Linked DNA regions of Homo sapiens. The protein of the gene in region 1 interacts with the protein of each later gene in a pairwise test. Each region holds a gene or a part of one and is shown on either strand. Other genes may lie near its edges.

Region 1 (7,577 bases):
ACCCACAGTACATGCATGGTAAGTGCTTTGGGTTGCTGACTAACCATTAAGAACCATGTTTATACCCTTATGGGAATAATCCTGATGTGGATCAGGAGACCTGGGCTCAACCACTGGCATTAAGCTGGCTCTCTCCTCTCTGGTCTCAGTTTACCTATCTCTCTTTTTTTTTTTTCTTTTTGGACATGGAGTCTTGCTCTGTTGCTCAGGCTGTAGTGCAATGACGCAACCTCAGCTCACTGCAACCTCCGCCTCCTGGGGTCAAATGATTCTCCCTGCTCAGCCTCCTGGGGAAGCTGGGATTACAGGTACCCACCACCATGTCCAGCTAATTTTTGTATTTTTAGTAGAGACAGGGTTTCACCATGTTAGCCAGGCTGGTCTCGAACTCCTGACCTTAGGTGATCCACCTGCCTCGGGTTCCCAGAGTGCTGGGATTACAGGTGTGAGCCACCGCACCCAGCCCAGTTTCCCCATCTCTATAGCCGGGAGAGGACCCGATTTCTAAAGGACCTTCTGGTTCCTCTGACATCCTCTGGAATCAGTGGCTCTGCTTTGTGACTCTGGAAAAATAGCTGCAATTTTGGCTGTGGTTGAAAGGGGTACGCCCACAGATGGGTTGAAATGGCACTTCACACTCTGGAGATGCACTGGCACAGCCTTAGGCTCCCATATTGAGGGTGGCAGGCACTAGGGGGAGGTTAGGGAACCTGGAGTGATCAGGCAGTGTTAAGGTTGGGAGCACTTGTGAACAGCAGAAACAGGAGACTGGAGTCGGACACCCAGCTGTGCATCTCCTCCAACCTACCGCTAGGTGACCCAAGCTAGTCCCTTCATCAGAGCCAACCCCCTTAGTTGAGCCAGCGATGAGGAGTGTCTTTGGATCAGGTTTTGAACCTGGAGGTACTAATAAAACAGGAGGCCACTTTCTAGGCCCTGAGATGATGTCACTATCATGAGGCAGGCAGAGGGGGTGGGATCAGTATGGTAGCCCCCTTCCTTACAGCCCCCACCTCCAGTGCAAAAGGTGCTGCCGCTTCTAAGCCCGACTCCCCCCTACCCTCTGCTATCAGATAGAAGCAAGAAACCCAGACTAGACAAGAGCCATTTCAGAGTAAACCTTTATGTGAAATTCTGTAAATGTGTATAGAGAGGCCTGTGGCCATCTGTGCTGGAGGCCTTGTCTGTGGAAATGCCGAGGCTCAGCACTTGCTGTAGATGGCCACGCTGCCCCGCTCCTCAAACTCTTCCTTGCTGACCCAGAGCTGTTGGAAGGCCTGCAGGGAGGCCAGGATGGAACCGCCGGTCCACACGGAGGTCTTCCTCTCAGGAGCGGCAGCCACTGCAGGGCTGTCCCCGGGGCAGAGGAGGCTCAGCTCCCTCTGGAAGCGCTCGGGGAAGCCATCCAGCATAGTGCAGCCGCCACACAGTAGCACGTTGGCGGCCATCTCCTCCTTGAAGCCCGTGTCCTGGCAGCGGCCCAGGCAGGCAGCTGTGAGCTCCGGGAGGCCCGGCTGGGTGCTGCCTGCCAGGGAGGGCTGGAAGAGCATCTCAGAGCAACGGAAGCGCTCCTGGCCAATAGTGATGAGTTTGCCGTCCGGGAGCTCGTAGTCCACGCGCAGCTCCTCCGGGACCAGGCCCAGCTCCTCCTCGGGCAGGAAGGCCGCATAGCAGCACTTCTTCTTGATGTGCTCTATGATGTGCAGGTGGTCGTCCGTGAATGCGTGGCCCGCCTCATTGAGCAGCTGCATCAGGTAGTTGGTGAGGTCACCCCCAGCGTAGTCGGCGCGGCTGGTCAGGCCCGGCAGCACGTCGCCCTCGGATATGGGCACCACGTGCGAGACGCCGTGCCCGCTCTCCACCACCAGCCCCGAGGTCTTGCCGTAGGAGTAGATGGACAGCAACGACTGGGACGTCACGTGCATGGCTGGGATGCCGAAGGTCTCAAACATGAGCTCCGCGTACTTCTCCCGGTTGCTGCTGGGGCTGAGCGGAGGGTCGGAGACCAGCACAGCGTGCTCCTCGGGGAGGATCTTCATGGCGGTGCGGAAGATGTACTCCCAGATGTCCTGCACGCAGTCCCAGTCCACCACGATGCCGTGCTTCAGCGGGTTCACCAGCTTGAGAGGCGCCTCCGTGTTGAGCAGCTCATGGCCCACTAAAGTCCACTTGCGGGTGTCGCCAGCGTCGGCCGCCTCGGGGCAGCGTTTGCCCACGGTGGAGGAGATGAAGTAGGTGGGCCTCGGCTCTCCCGCGTAGCCGCACTTGCAGTACTGGGAGCCCAGGTCGATGATGACCGCCTTGATCTTGTGCACCTTCCTGGGCTTCATCTTGAGCTGAGTGGCCGCACCTGTGTCCCGGAGGCTGGCGTCAGGGCCGGGCCGTGTTCCTGCCTCTCCAGGGTCACCCTGAGCCGTGCCCAGGGGCATGGGGCTGTTCCTTGTCGCCATCTGCCTCCCTTGCTCCCCTTCTCACATCCACAGCCTAGAGCCCCCTGGGGAGAAATGAGATCCCCCACCTCCAGCAGTGCCATGACAACCACCCGGGATTGTGATGTCACTCGGGGCTGGTCCATTCAGGCAGCAGGGGAGGGCCTGGCTTTGGTCGGTTCTTGGTGTGTCACCCCCACCTCTCTAACTCAAGTTTGCTCCCGGACAGAGCAGGTGGCCGGCAGTTTTAGAAATCCAAGCACACTAGGGTCTCAGAGGTTTCTGCTCAGCCCCCTTGCATTTCCATGCCTAACCTGTTCACTACTGGACACCTTTCCTCTTCTGCTTCTTGGTGGAGAGGGCCTATTTGAGCCCCTCCAGTAAGGCAGGCACTGTACTAGTTACTTCACTTATGTTGTTCTGCAGGTAGGCAGAGCTGAGGAAATGAGGCTCAGAATTCTAAGGACTTGCCCAAGAGCAAACAGCACTTGGGGTGTTTGTACCTTAACCCAAATTCATCAAACTCCAATGCACCAGGCCTCCTTAACCGCCCCAAGAGTTCTTTCCTCCCTTCACTCCACATTTACTGGAGTATATAGTAGGTCCCGCCCAGTGCAGCCTGCCAGTGATAGATGATTAAAAACCCAGGCCACCAGCAGTGCCCAGTCTAGACAAGAAAATGGAATGGGTGCCGATGGGTTTGCAGGAAGAAGTCTACTTGGAGAACTCATTTGAGACAGGCAGTCAGAAGGTGCTCTAGAGAGGAGGTGATGCTTAAGTTGAATCCTGGAAGAGGTGTAGGTATTTGTCAAGTAGTTAAGAGGAGGGGAAGACATCCCAGGCAGAGAGCACAGCTTGAGCAAAGGCTCAAATGGAGGCACGGTGAAGAACTTCCCACAGTCAAAGTGTTTGGAAAAACAGATGAAGCTAGAGAAGTCACAGAGCCAAATAGAAAGGGCATCAAATGGCAGGAGTAGGTTTAGACTAAACTGAGGAGAGCCAGGGAAGCTATGAAGACTTTAAGCAGGGGAATGATCAGATTTGCCCTCTAGAAAAATGTTAGAAAGGGCCGGGCGTGGTGGCTCATGCCTGTAATCCCACCAGCACTTTGGGAGGCTGAGGCAGGTGGATCATGAGGTCAGGAGTTCAAGACCAGCCTGGCCAAGATGGTGAAACCCCATCTCTACTAAAAATACAAAAATTAGCTGGGCATGGTGGCGGGTGCCTGTAATCCCAGCTACTTGGGGGGCTGAGGCAGAGAATTGCTTCAACCTGGGAGGCAAAGGTTGCAGTGAGCTGAGATCGCACCACTGCACTCCAGCCTGGGAGACAGAGTGAGACTCCATCTCAAAAAAAAAGAAAAGAAAAATAAAAATGTTAGAAAGATCTGCATTGGGCTGTAATGTAGAGAATGGATGGGAGGGGCAAGACTAGAAACTGAGACCCGAAACGAGGCCATTGGAGAACTTCTGATAAGACTTGAAGGTGGCCTGACCTAGGGCTGTGAGAGTGTGGAAACAAGGAAGAGCCTAGTTCTAGAGAAACTTAGAAAGTAGAATAGAATCCAATCTGTTTTTTCCCCAACCATCCCTCACTTTAATCCAAGCTCTTACTCTGACATTTCAGGGCTTCCCTCATGGGCTCCTGTGATGTGGGATGTGAGGCAGAGGGAAGGATGAATCGCTTACTTGTACCCGGGCAAAGAAAGATGGCCTGTCATCCAGAAAGGACAAATTCACGAGAGTGCCAGAGGGACCTGCAACTTAAGCTGCCCCCTCCCACTCCAAAAATCAAAAAGGCAGTTTAGGGCTTTGGTGGTGAAGAGTCAACAGAAAAAGGGGAAGAGCGGCAACTGGGCCTGAGGAAGTTTTCTGGGAGAATTAAGATGAGCAGAGGTGCCTGAGGAATTGATTAGGCAACATGCATGGGGGAAAAAGAGTTAAGAAATACTGCCATGGAGCATGTAAGAATGCTAATGAGGAATGTGTGGGGATTTTTGTTTGCCAAATTTTTGTTTGTTTGTTTGTTTCTGAGACAGAGTTTCGCTCTTTCGCCCAGTCTGGAGTGCAGTGGCGCGATCTCAGCTCACTGCAACCTCCGCCTTCCAGTTTCAAGCGATTCTCCTGCCTCAGCCTCCCCAGTAGCTGGGATTACAGGCACCTGCTACCACGCCTGGCTAATTTTTGTATTTTTGGTAGAGACGGGGTTTCACCATGTTGGCCAGGCTGACATTGAACTCCTGATCTCGTGATCCGCCCGCCTTGGCCTCCCAAAGTGCTGGGATTACAGGTGTGAGCCACCATGCCCAGCCCGCTGAATTGTTTCTTGGAACATGGCAGCATTCAACTATATTATTTGGGTAACAACTTTCTAAGGGTTATAATTATGAACATCATGACCCAGAAATGCCCTGTGGTGGGATCATGAAATCACAGAAGCTGAGGATTGGACCCTTCAGTTCCTTCTAGAACATTCCATCCAGTAGTCTGACATGGACAGCTCACCCTATTTTGGCCAGCCATGAGTGATAAACGTTTCGTCACACTGGATTGGCATGTGTACCTCTCTGAAGCCATTAAATGGTCTTGGGTCTACTCTTGAAGTTCTACGGGGCAAGCAAATTCTTCCACGACAACTCTTAGGCTATTTAAAGGCAGTATTCATGGACTGCCAGAGCCTACTTTTTATCCATTCCTTACAGAAAGGCAGTACAGAGCAGATGGAAGACTGAGGAACTGGATTCCGAAGACCTGGGTTCAAACATAGACTTATTATTTATAATCTGTATGACTTTGGGTAAACTACTTGAAATGTTGTTTGAATGTGATTACCATTTTGCTATGTCCCCTCGTCAACTTGACCCCTACCCACAGCCTCCAGGTCTCTGCCTTGAGCTGCTAAGTGGATGATGGTGACACACACACATACACACACACACACACACACACACACACACACTCACATTTGGGGTCTGCTGACTTAGAGATGCCCAAAGGTCACTAGGCTGTGGGACACTGGGCTGGAGCACATGGAAAGGGAAGCATCCGGATCCACATTTGCATGCTCAGTAGCACATCTGCCCCTGAAGACAGCTCCTCTCCCTTCCACCTCGGGGAAATGGACACAGTCTTGGGACCTGGGTGTCCACACTGGGATCTGAGCTGTGAGAAAGCAGCTCAAAGTGCCTGTTTGGCAAGGATCTTCTTTGTTGGGAGCTCCTGACTCAGGGGTTCTCCAGCATATTCAAGAGTTGGAAAGGCTGTGGTGGGCTCCAGTAATTTTTAAGAAAAACTCCAGGTGATTCATGAGAAGAAATGCCATGCTGGATTTTCTTTTTTTCCCTCCCATTGCTGCTAAAATTCCAGAGGCCTGGCTCACCTCTCCTCCAAAGGTCAAGGGTGGGCAGTGTCCCAAAACTGAAGCCAGGAGCCAGGATGCACCTCAGGCAGAAGTGTGTTCTTTAATCTCACCTTTCCATGTTCTCTCCCTCCACTATAGAAGAGGATCCCAGGGTTGCATTTGAAAAGGGGTCATCCCATGGTTTTTTTGGTCTTGAGCCAGAGGGCTAAAAGTAGGTGTGATCCCATTAGAAAATGTGGCCCAATATATTTTGAGCACTATAGGGTGCCTCTCCCAAGAGGGACCTCACTAGGGACCCCAGAGGGCCCACACAGACCTTAGCTGGTGACAATTATGGGGGGTGTGTGTGCTAGGCAGTGGAGGTTTGGGGCACGGTGTCCACAGTCTCTGCATTCTTCCATCATTACCACTAACCGTGTGATGACCCATAGAGGGAGAGAAGAGGCACAGAGGGTAACAGGAAGCTTAGGGGAAACAGGGTTTTTATTAGGAGCACCCAACATGTGAAACTCAGTGGTGAAGTAAAAGGAGGGCAAGTGTTTCATTGGCTTTTGCTCAGAGAATGTGAGGGGAATCCCTATGCTCAAGGACCTTACAGACTAGATAGAGTGACTGCCTTACACTAAAGCATCACCTCTTCCACACACAAATGCAGAAAGTGTGATGACAGATGACAGATGGGCAAGCCTGGGCAGCCCACGAAGAGCAAATGAGTCAGAGCATGTCAGGCTTGGAGTGTATTAGCAAAGAGGGAGGCACTGAACAGGTGAAAGGGTCCTCCAAAGGTGTCCACATCTTAATCCCTGGGACCTGTGACTATATTAACTTTCATGCCAAAAGGGATTCTGTGGATGTGATTAAATGAAGGAATCTGAGATGGGGAGAGTATCCTGTATGGCCTGGGTGGGGCCAATGTAATCACAAGGGTCCTTATATGGGGGATACAGGAGGGTCAAGGGCAGAGAAGCAGATGTGACAATGACAGCTCTAGTCTGAGAGTCTTCCAAGATGGAGGAAGGGACTATGAGCCAAGGAACACAGGTGGCCTCTAGGAGCTGGAGGCAAGAGGAAGTATTGTCTCCTACACCTCCAGAAGGAATACAGCCCTGAAAGAACCTTAATTGTAGCCCACTAAGAAGAATTACGAACTTCTGACCTCCAAAATAGTAAGATAATAACTGTGAATTGCTTTAAGCCACTAAATCCATGGTAATTTGTTACAGCAGAAACAGGAAGCTAATACAGGCTCTTCTAGGAGTCCAGGTTAGTGAAAAGGCACCAAGCAGCTATAGATTTCGCAACATTCAAGTAGGGTTTGGGAAGAAAAAAATGGAGGGTTTTAAATTACATATGCCTTTGGTTACCATATACAGCACTTTTGAAATAAAGTCAAACAATCTGAGTTGCCCACGCAAATCCCTGAACGGCAGAGGCAATTAAACTGTTTTTCAGGCAGCCAGGCATCAAAAGTACTTTCCTATTTTTCCTTTAAAATTCCATGCTATTATCTCACCCACTAACCAATGAAGCAAGAAACTGAGATTTTGTCCTTGGGATGACACCTTGCTGCCCCCATCAGATAGTCACCACAAACCTCATGAGACTGGACTTGGTCCTTTTCTTCTCTCATACCCAACAAGGAACTGAGAGCAACTCCCGTAGCCTCTCTAAAGGAGAAAGCCCATTATTGTGGTGACTGCCTCTTTTATGAAGGGCTGGGATCAGGTTCAGGGTGTGGCATAACATAAGGTTGGATTCTGCCCTGAGTGTGGCAGGCATCCACACCAA
Region 2 (7,571 bases), on another chromosome or scaffold:
CTCACCTGCTTATCTTTTAACCAATTAGAGTATAAAGAAACAATAACTTCAAGAAAATTAAATCCATATGTCACAACCATCCTCCTCACATGCCAAAATTCTGCACAACTTGGAAAGCACTCATGTCTCAGTGTCCTCCTCGGTGGCAGCAGGCCAGCGGCTCACCTCCTGTGGCTTCTGCTCCATACTGACTGCTGAGCCGAAGGCGGCTCACAACCTAACTCATGGAAGCTGTGCCAAATGGCTGCTCAGCAAACTAACTCATATCCCTCAGGGTGAAAACACTGGAGATGTATTCTTGCTTGGGTCTTTAAAACTCTTGTTTCTCATATTGCCAAAGAAGTAGCTTCCCAGTTGTTAGCTGACACATTAAAATTAATAACTTAAGATGTGAGTTTGGGTTGTCTCAAATATGCCCTCACATTAGTCAAGACCTACAGGTTTAGGAATGGCTAACTAGTATTAAGTAGCTGCTCAAGAAAATCTGTTTAAAATGACGTTCTGGCCGGGCATAGTGGCAAGCCTATAGTCCCGGTTACCTGGAAGGCCAAGGCAGGAGGATCTCTTGAGCCCAAGAGTTCTAGGACATAGTGTGCTATGACTGCCCCTGTGAATAGTCACCATACTCCAGCCTGGGTAACAGAGCTAGACCCCATCTCTTAATACATTCAGTTTCAAAGTTAACAGATTTGGCAACCTCAGTGAGGGATTTTTTTTTTAAGTTTTTTGTTGTTGTTGTTGTTTGTTAATGCTACGGATGTAGAAAAAAACCTAGGCTCTGGACATCCCAATTCTGATGCTGGCCAGCTGTAACTTACCTTCACTCTCACAAAGTGCACCCTGCATCCTGCAGTACCAGTTAATGACCAGGTCCAGTGGCCACTCTAGCAAACACTGAATCAGAACAAAAAGCTATGGAGACAGATGCCAGGACCTAAGTTCCAATACTTTTCTGGAGTTGATAAACTTTACCCACAGATTGAGAGAAAATAACACATCATGACCACCTTGAGCTGTGTATCCCAAGAAGACAAGCTTTCCAGAAGGGGGCACTTAAGTATCATTATGCCGCATTAATATTTATTTTTTATTACTATCTTTTTGGGATGGAGTCTTGCTCTGTTGCCTAGGCTGGAGTGCAGTGGCGTGGTCTCGGCTCACCACAACCTCCGCCTCCGGGTTCAAGCGATTCTCCCGCCTCAGCCTCCTGAGTAGCTGGGATTACAGGCATGCGCCACCACACCCAGCTACTTTTTTTTTGTATTTTCAGTAGAGACAGGGTTTTGCTATGTTGTCCTGGCTGGTCTTGAACTCCTGGCCTCAAGTGATCCACCTGCCTCAGCCTCCTGGAAGTGCTGGGATTACAAGCATGAGCCACCACGCCCGGCCTGCGTTAATATTTAAAAACCTGGATAAAGTAAGAAATAGCTTTATTGATATGGAGAAAATAAATTTTAATGAAGGAGCTACCCTGTATAACAGATATAGAAATTCCTTTTCATCTGCAATCTACTTATCAAAAATGTGCCCTTCTTTAAACCTGATTCTTGACCTCTTTTCACTTTTTTTTTTTGAGACAGAGCCTCCCTCTGTCGCCCAGGCTGCAGTGCAGTGGCGCAATCTTGGCTCACTGCAAGTCCACCTCCAGGTTTCAAGCGATTCTCCTGCCTCAGTCTCCCCAGTAGCTGGGACTAGAGGCGCCCACCACTGTGTCTGGCCCTCTTTTCACTTCTCTTCCTTTGCAGGATAATGTAACTGCCACCTCCTTATTCCTTAAATCAGCTTAGGTTTTACAAAACTAATCATTCCTTTTTTCACCTCACTCTAATTTGATAGTCCCTCCAGATAATCCTGCCAGCTACCATTTGTTGATGGCCTGATGCCTTAGATACCTTATCTCACAGCTCCACAGCTCAGGAACAGGGACAGAGAAAGTGGGCCAGGCGTGCCAAGGTCGGCAAAGTGAAGCTGGGATTGAAAGCCAGCCCACCTACAGATTCCAAAGTCTCTGTAGGCCCATCCCCACGCAGCCCCTCCCACCCGAGACCGGCTACCTTTCTAAACTTTGTTCAACTTCCCAAACGACTTCGGTCATTCTACTGTCATCGTCTTCATTCACTGCACTCTCTATGAAAATCTACCCATCGGCTCCATCAACAATGTATTTAGTAACCCTATGTAGAGTAACCTCCATCAGGCCTAGAACATGCACTGGGGAGTGCGGTGGAGGAAGAAGAGGAAGGGAGCAGGTGAGTGAAGGAAAGCCCCGGCTTCCCGCCCCTAGAGACTGCAACTGGACCCTGCACTGTGCCTCCAGGACAAGGCTACCTATCTACCTCCTCTACGACCATGTGACTTTTACAGCTTGCCTCTGGAGCACCATTTCCTTTGTGCAGCAAAATATAAAGAGTTCTTAAACAAAGGCACTCTAACCAACTGCAGGCGTTTCGTTCTTTTTTTTTTTTTTTCTTCTTGATTCGAAGTCTCACTCTGTCGCCGAGGTTGGAGTGCAGTGGGGCGATCTCGGCTCACTGCAACCTCCACCTCCAGGGTTCAAACGATTCTCTTGTCTCAGCCTCCCCAGTAGCTTGCGCCCAGGCCTGGCTAATTTTTTTGTATTTTTAGTAGAGACGGGGTTTCACCGTGTTAGTTAGGCTGGTCGAGAACTCCCGACCTCTGGTGATCCGCCCGCCTCGGCCTCCCAAAGTGTTGGGATTACAAGGCGTGAGCCACCACGGCCGGCCAACTGCAGGCGTTTCGACCTTTTTGTTTGTTTCACTCTGGCCAGGCTTGAAGTTTCTAAACTTTACCAGTAATAAGTGACAGAACGTACGCTCTTAGCAGTTGATTACTTTGCAGAAAAAAGTTATTGTGGTTTTGGCTCAAACCGACAGACAGCAGCAGGTTTCCTGGATGAAGAAGAGAGATACCGGGGTGTGCTGGCCGCCAGGAACTGGCCGCCTCCAGCTGAAGCCCGGGAGGACCCAGGGTCTTGGCCCGGGCACCCCGCGGGCCTGTTATGTTTTCATTATGACTCGGCGGAACAACCCCTCCTTTTCACTTTTCGAAGTGAGCAAACAAAAGATCCAACCCCCAACATTTCAAACGGCCAGGTGTGGGGGAACGCCAGGCCCGCGTGGGGACAGCCTTTTAAGGTTTAAACAGCCGGGGCGCCCCGAAAGCGCTCATCGCCCCGGAGGACAAAGGCGGCAGGGGCACGCCCCGGCGCCGGCGTCGCTACTCGGGACCGCCAGGAGGCGGCAGCCAGGTCCCCGAGTGTTTCTTAGACTGAAGCGCGAAACCGTCCCCACCCGCCCTGAGCGCTTCAATCCAAGAGTGCAACTTCTCCAGGCCGCCCTGCAAAGCCGAAGGAACCCGCGGCCCCACTCCGGTCCGCGCGCCCGGTCCACTAACCCTCGTTTCCCCTCCAGCCGGAGCAAGACGCAGACCTGCTCGGTGCCCAGTCGACGCCCCCTGCCTACCTGCCGGGTGCCCCCTGCGGAGCCCCGAGGCCGAGCTCATTGCAGCCAAACGCGCAGCCAGACACCTTGCCCTCCTCTTCCTGAAGCCACAGGCTCCCGGGCCCGGCCCCGCCCTCGGCCCTTCCTCGGCGGCCCCGCCCCCTGCCCCCGAGCGTGGGGCCAGTTGGTTCTGATTGCGCGCCGCCCGGGCTCCCGTGGATCGGGCTGGTCCTTCCCAGAGTTAAAGCTCCTCCCAGTCGCTCCGGAGCCCGCGGGGACCAAGAGCGCGGGGGCAGGGAGAGGTACGCGGTCTTCGCCTCCAGGCCCGCTGGGACTAACCGTGCCCTGGGGACATGCCAGTTGCCACCCGGGGGGACACACAGACCGCCTAGCCCGAGGCAATTTCACATCACTTGTGTGAGCTCGGACTCATTTAATCCCAGCTGCCCCAAACATTTGCTATTCCTTACTTTGCTATGCCTGTACTTTCTAGAGGTACAGGCATAGATTGTTTTATACCGCTTAGCAGATACTGCCTGTATTTCAACATTGGCTCGCTTTGTGTCTCTGTGTCACATTTTGGTACTCTCGCAATATTTCAAAATTTTTCATTGTTATTATGTCTGCTGTTGTGATCTGTGATCAGTAATCTTTAATATTATTGCAATTGTTTTGGGGCACCATGAACCGCGCTCATAAAGGAAGGGGAAATTAATCCATAAGCCCTGTATGTGTTTGGACTGTTCCACCGAACTTTCCCTTCTCTCTCCCCCTCCTGGGGCCTCCCTATTCCTGGAAACACAATTTTGAAATTAGGCCAACTAATAATCCTACAAAGGCCTCTAAGTGTCCAAATGAAAGGAAGAGCCTGTCACTTTAAATCAAAAGCAAACATGATTAAGTTAGTGAGGAAGTAATGTTGGTAGGCAGAAAGCTAGGCTTCTTGCTCCAGTTAGCCAAGTTGTGAGTGCAAAGGAGAAAAGCCAAGTCATGAATGCAAAGGAAAAAATTTTGAAGGAAATTAAAAATGCTACTCCAGTAAACACACAAAAGACAATAAAGCTAAACAGCCTTATTGCTGATATGGAGAAAGTTCTAGTTGGTCTGGATAGAAGATAAAAACAGCCACAACATTCCCTTAAGCCAAAGCCTAATCCAGAGCAAGGCCCTAACTCTTCAATTCTATGGAGGCTGAGAGAGGTGAGGGAATTGCAAAAGAAAAGCTGGAAGCTAGCAGAGAGGATGGTTCCTGAGGTTTAAGGAAAGAAACTATCTTCATGACATAAAAGTGCAAGGTGAAGCAGCAGGTGCTAACGTAGAAGCTGCATCAGGTTATCCAGATCTAGCTAAAATCATTGATAAAGGCAGCTACACTAAACAACAATCTTTTGTTTTTGAGACAGTCTTGCTTTGTCACCAAGGCTGGAGTACAGTGGTGCGATCTTTTGCAACCTCTGCCTCCTGGGTTCAAACGATTCTTCTGCCTCAGCCTCCCAAGTAACTGGGATTACAGGATGTGCCACCATGTCCAGGTTAATTTTGTATTTTTAGTAGAGACAGAGTTTCACCATGTTTGGCCAGGCTGGTCTTGAACTCCTGACCTTGAGCAATCTGCCCGCCTCGGTCTCCCAAAGTGCTGGGATTACAGGTGTGAGCCACCGTGCCCAGCCAAAACAACAGATCTTAAATGTATATGAAACGGCCTTCTATTGGAAGAAGATTCCATCTAAGACTTTCATAGCTAGAGAGAAGTCAATGCCTGTCTTCAAAGCTTCAAAGAACAGGCTGATGCTCTTGTTAGGGGCTAATACAACTGATGACTTTAAAGCCAACATTCCTTTACCATTCTGAAAATCCTAGTGCCCTTAAGAATTATGCTAAATATGATCTATAAATGGACCAACAAAGGCTAGTTAGTGACAGCACATCTATTTACAGCATGGCTTAGAGAATATTTAAAGCCCACTGTTGAGCTCTAGTGCTCAGAAGAAAGGTTCCTTTCAAAATATTACTCCTCATTGACAATACACCTGGTCATCCAAGAGTTCTGATAGAGATGTACAGAGACTGATGCTGTTATCGTGCTTGCTAACACAACATCCATTCTGAAGCCCAGGGATCAAGGAGAAATTTTGACTTTCAAGTCTTATTTACAAAATACATTTCATAAGGCTATAGCTGTCATCATGATTCCTCTGATAGTTCTGAGCAAAGTAAATTGAAAATCTTCTGGAAAGGATTCATCATTCGAGATGCCATTAAGAACATTTGTGATTCATGGGAGGTCAAAATATCCACTTACGGTATGTAACTAGAGACTAGAGGGGGAAAAAAAGAAAAACGAAAAATTAAAAGTACATGTATCAGCCACAGTGGCTCATGCCTGTAAACCCAGCACTTTGGGAGGCCAAGGTGGATTGCTTGAGGCCAGGAGTTTTGAGACCAGCCTAGGCAACAATGCAAGACCCTGTCTCTACAATTTTTTTTTTTTTTTAATTAGCCAAGAGTGGTGGCACATGCCTGTATTCCCAGCAACTCAGGACACTAAGATGGCAGGATTATTTGAGCCCAAGTTTGAGGCTGCAGTCAGCTGACTGTGCCACTGCACTCCAGTCTGGGTGACAGAGTAAGACACTCTTTAAAAAAAAAAAAAAAAAAAAAAAAAAAATATATATATATATATATATATATATATATAATATATATAAAATACATATATAAATATTTAAAAATTATATATATTTCAATTGGCACACTGGGTGGTATTTTACAGGCAGGACAACATACCTATCCATTTTATATATATATATATATATATATATATATATATATATATACACACACACATATACACACACACATACATTATACATAGGTATATGCATATATCTCCACATTAACAGGAGTTTGAAAGAAGTTAATTCCAATCCTCATCACTGATGTTGAGGGGTTCAAGACTTCAGTGAGGGAAGTCACTGTAGATGTGGCAGAAGTAGCAAGACAAATAGAATTGGAAGTGGGGCCTGAAAATGTGGCTGCATTGTTGCCATCTCATGATAAAACTTTGATAGATGAGGAGATGCTTTTTACGGATGAGCAAAGAAAGTGGTTTATTGAGATAGAATCTACTCCTGGTGAATATGCTGTGAATTGTGTTTAAATGACAACAAAGGATTCAGGGTATTAGTTGACAAAGCAGTGGCAGGGTTTGGGGGGATTGACCCCAATTTTGAAAGAAGGTCTGTGGATAAAATGCTACCAAACAGCATCACATGCTACAGGGAAATCTTTAGTGAATGGAACAATCAATGGATGGCCAGGTGCAGTGGCTCATGCCTGTAATCCCAGGACTTTGGGAGGCCAGGAGTTCGAGCCCAGACTGGCCAACATGGCAAAACCCTGTCTCTACTAAAAATAACAAAAATTAGCCGGGCACGGTGGCAGGCACCTGTAATCCCAGCTACTCAGGAGGCTGAGGCACAAGAATCACTTGAACCAGGAGGCAGAGGTTGCAGTGAGCCAAGATCATGCCACTGCACTCCAGCCTGAGTGACAGAACGAGACTCCATCTCAAAACAAACAAAAAAATGAAGCAAACTTCCTTATTGCCTTATTTTAAGAGATTGCCAGTCATCCCAGCCTTCAGCAACTACCACCCTAATCAGTCAGCAGCCCTCAACAATACCCCACACCAACATTTATAACTCGCTGAAGGCTCAGATGATCCCTAGCATCTTTTAGCAATATTTTAAAATTAAGGTATATACATTATTTTTTTAGACATGTTATTGCACACTTAACAGACTACACTTTAGTATGAAAAACTTTCATATGCACTGGGAAACCAGAAAATTTGTGTGACTCTTTTATTGGTGGTCTGGAACCAAACTCGAAATCCCTCTGAGGTATCCCATAGGGGGTGGCATATATGTTCCTGTTTCATGTGTAGTCCTTTCCCCAGTGCAAGTTACTTTGTAGGACTTGCAGTAACTTATTTTAAATGTTCTTTGTATATGAAACTTGGGCCAAAGTAAACTGGAGGTAACTCCTGGATTTTTTTTTTTTTTTTTTGAGACAGTTTAGCTGTTGTTGCCCAGGCTGGAGTGCAAT

What was found. Proteins that work in one complex are often made in the same cells at the same time.
Region 2: the proteins of ACTL7B (region 1) and CASP6 interact in binary tests that used the Homo sapiens proteins (3 or more experiments, as listed by UniProt).

The regions. Positions count from the first base shown.
Region 1 is NC_000009.12:108,853,481-108,861,057, forward strand, and holds ACTL7B (actin-like protein 7B), read right to left. Parts: upstream 2,507-7,577; 5' UTR 2,451-2,506; coding exon 1,203-2,450; 3' UTR 1,108-1,202; downstream 1-1,107.
Region 2 is NC_000004.12:109,699,874-109,707,444, forward strand, and holds the start of CASP6 (caspase-6 isoform alpha precursor), read right to left. Parts: upstream 3,573-7,571; 5' UTR 3,523-3,572; coding exon 3,483-3,522; intron 1-3,482.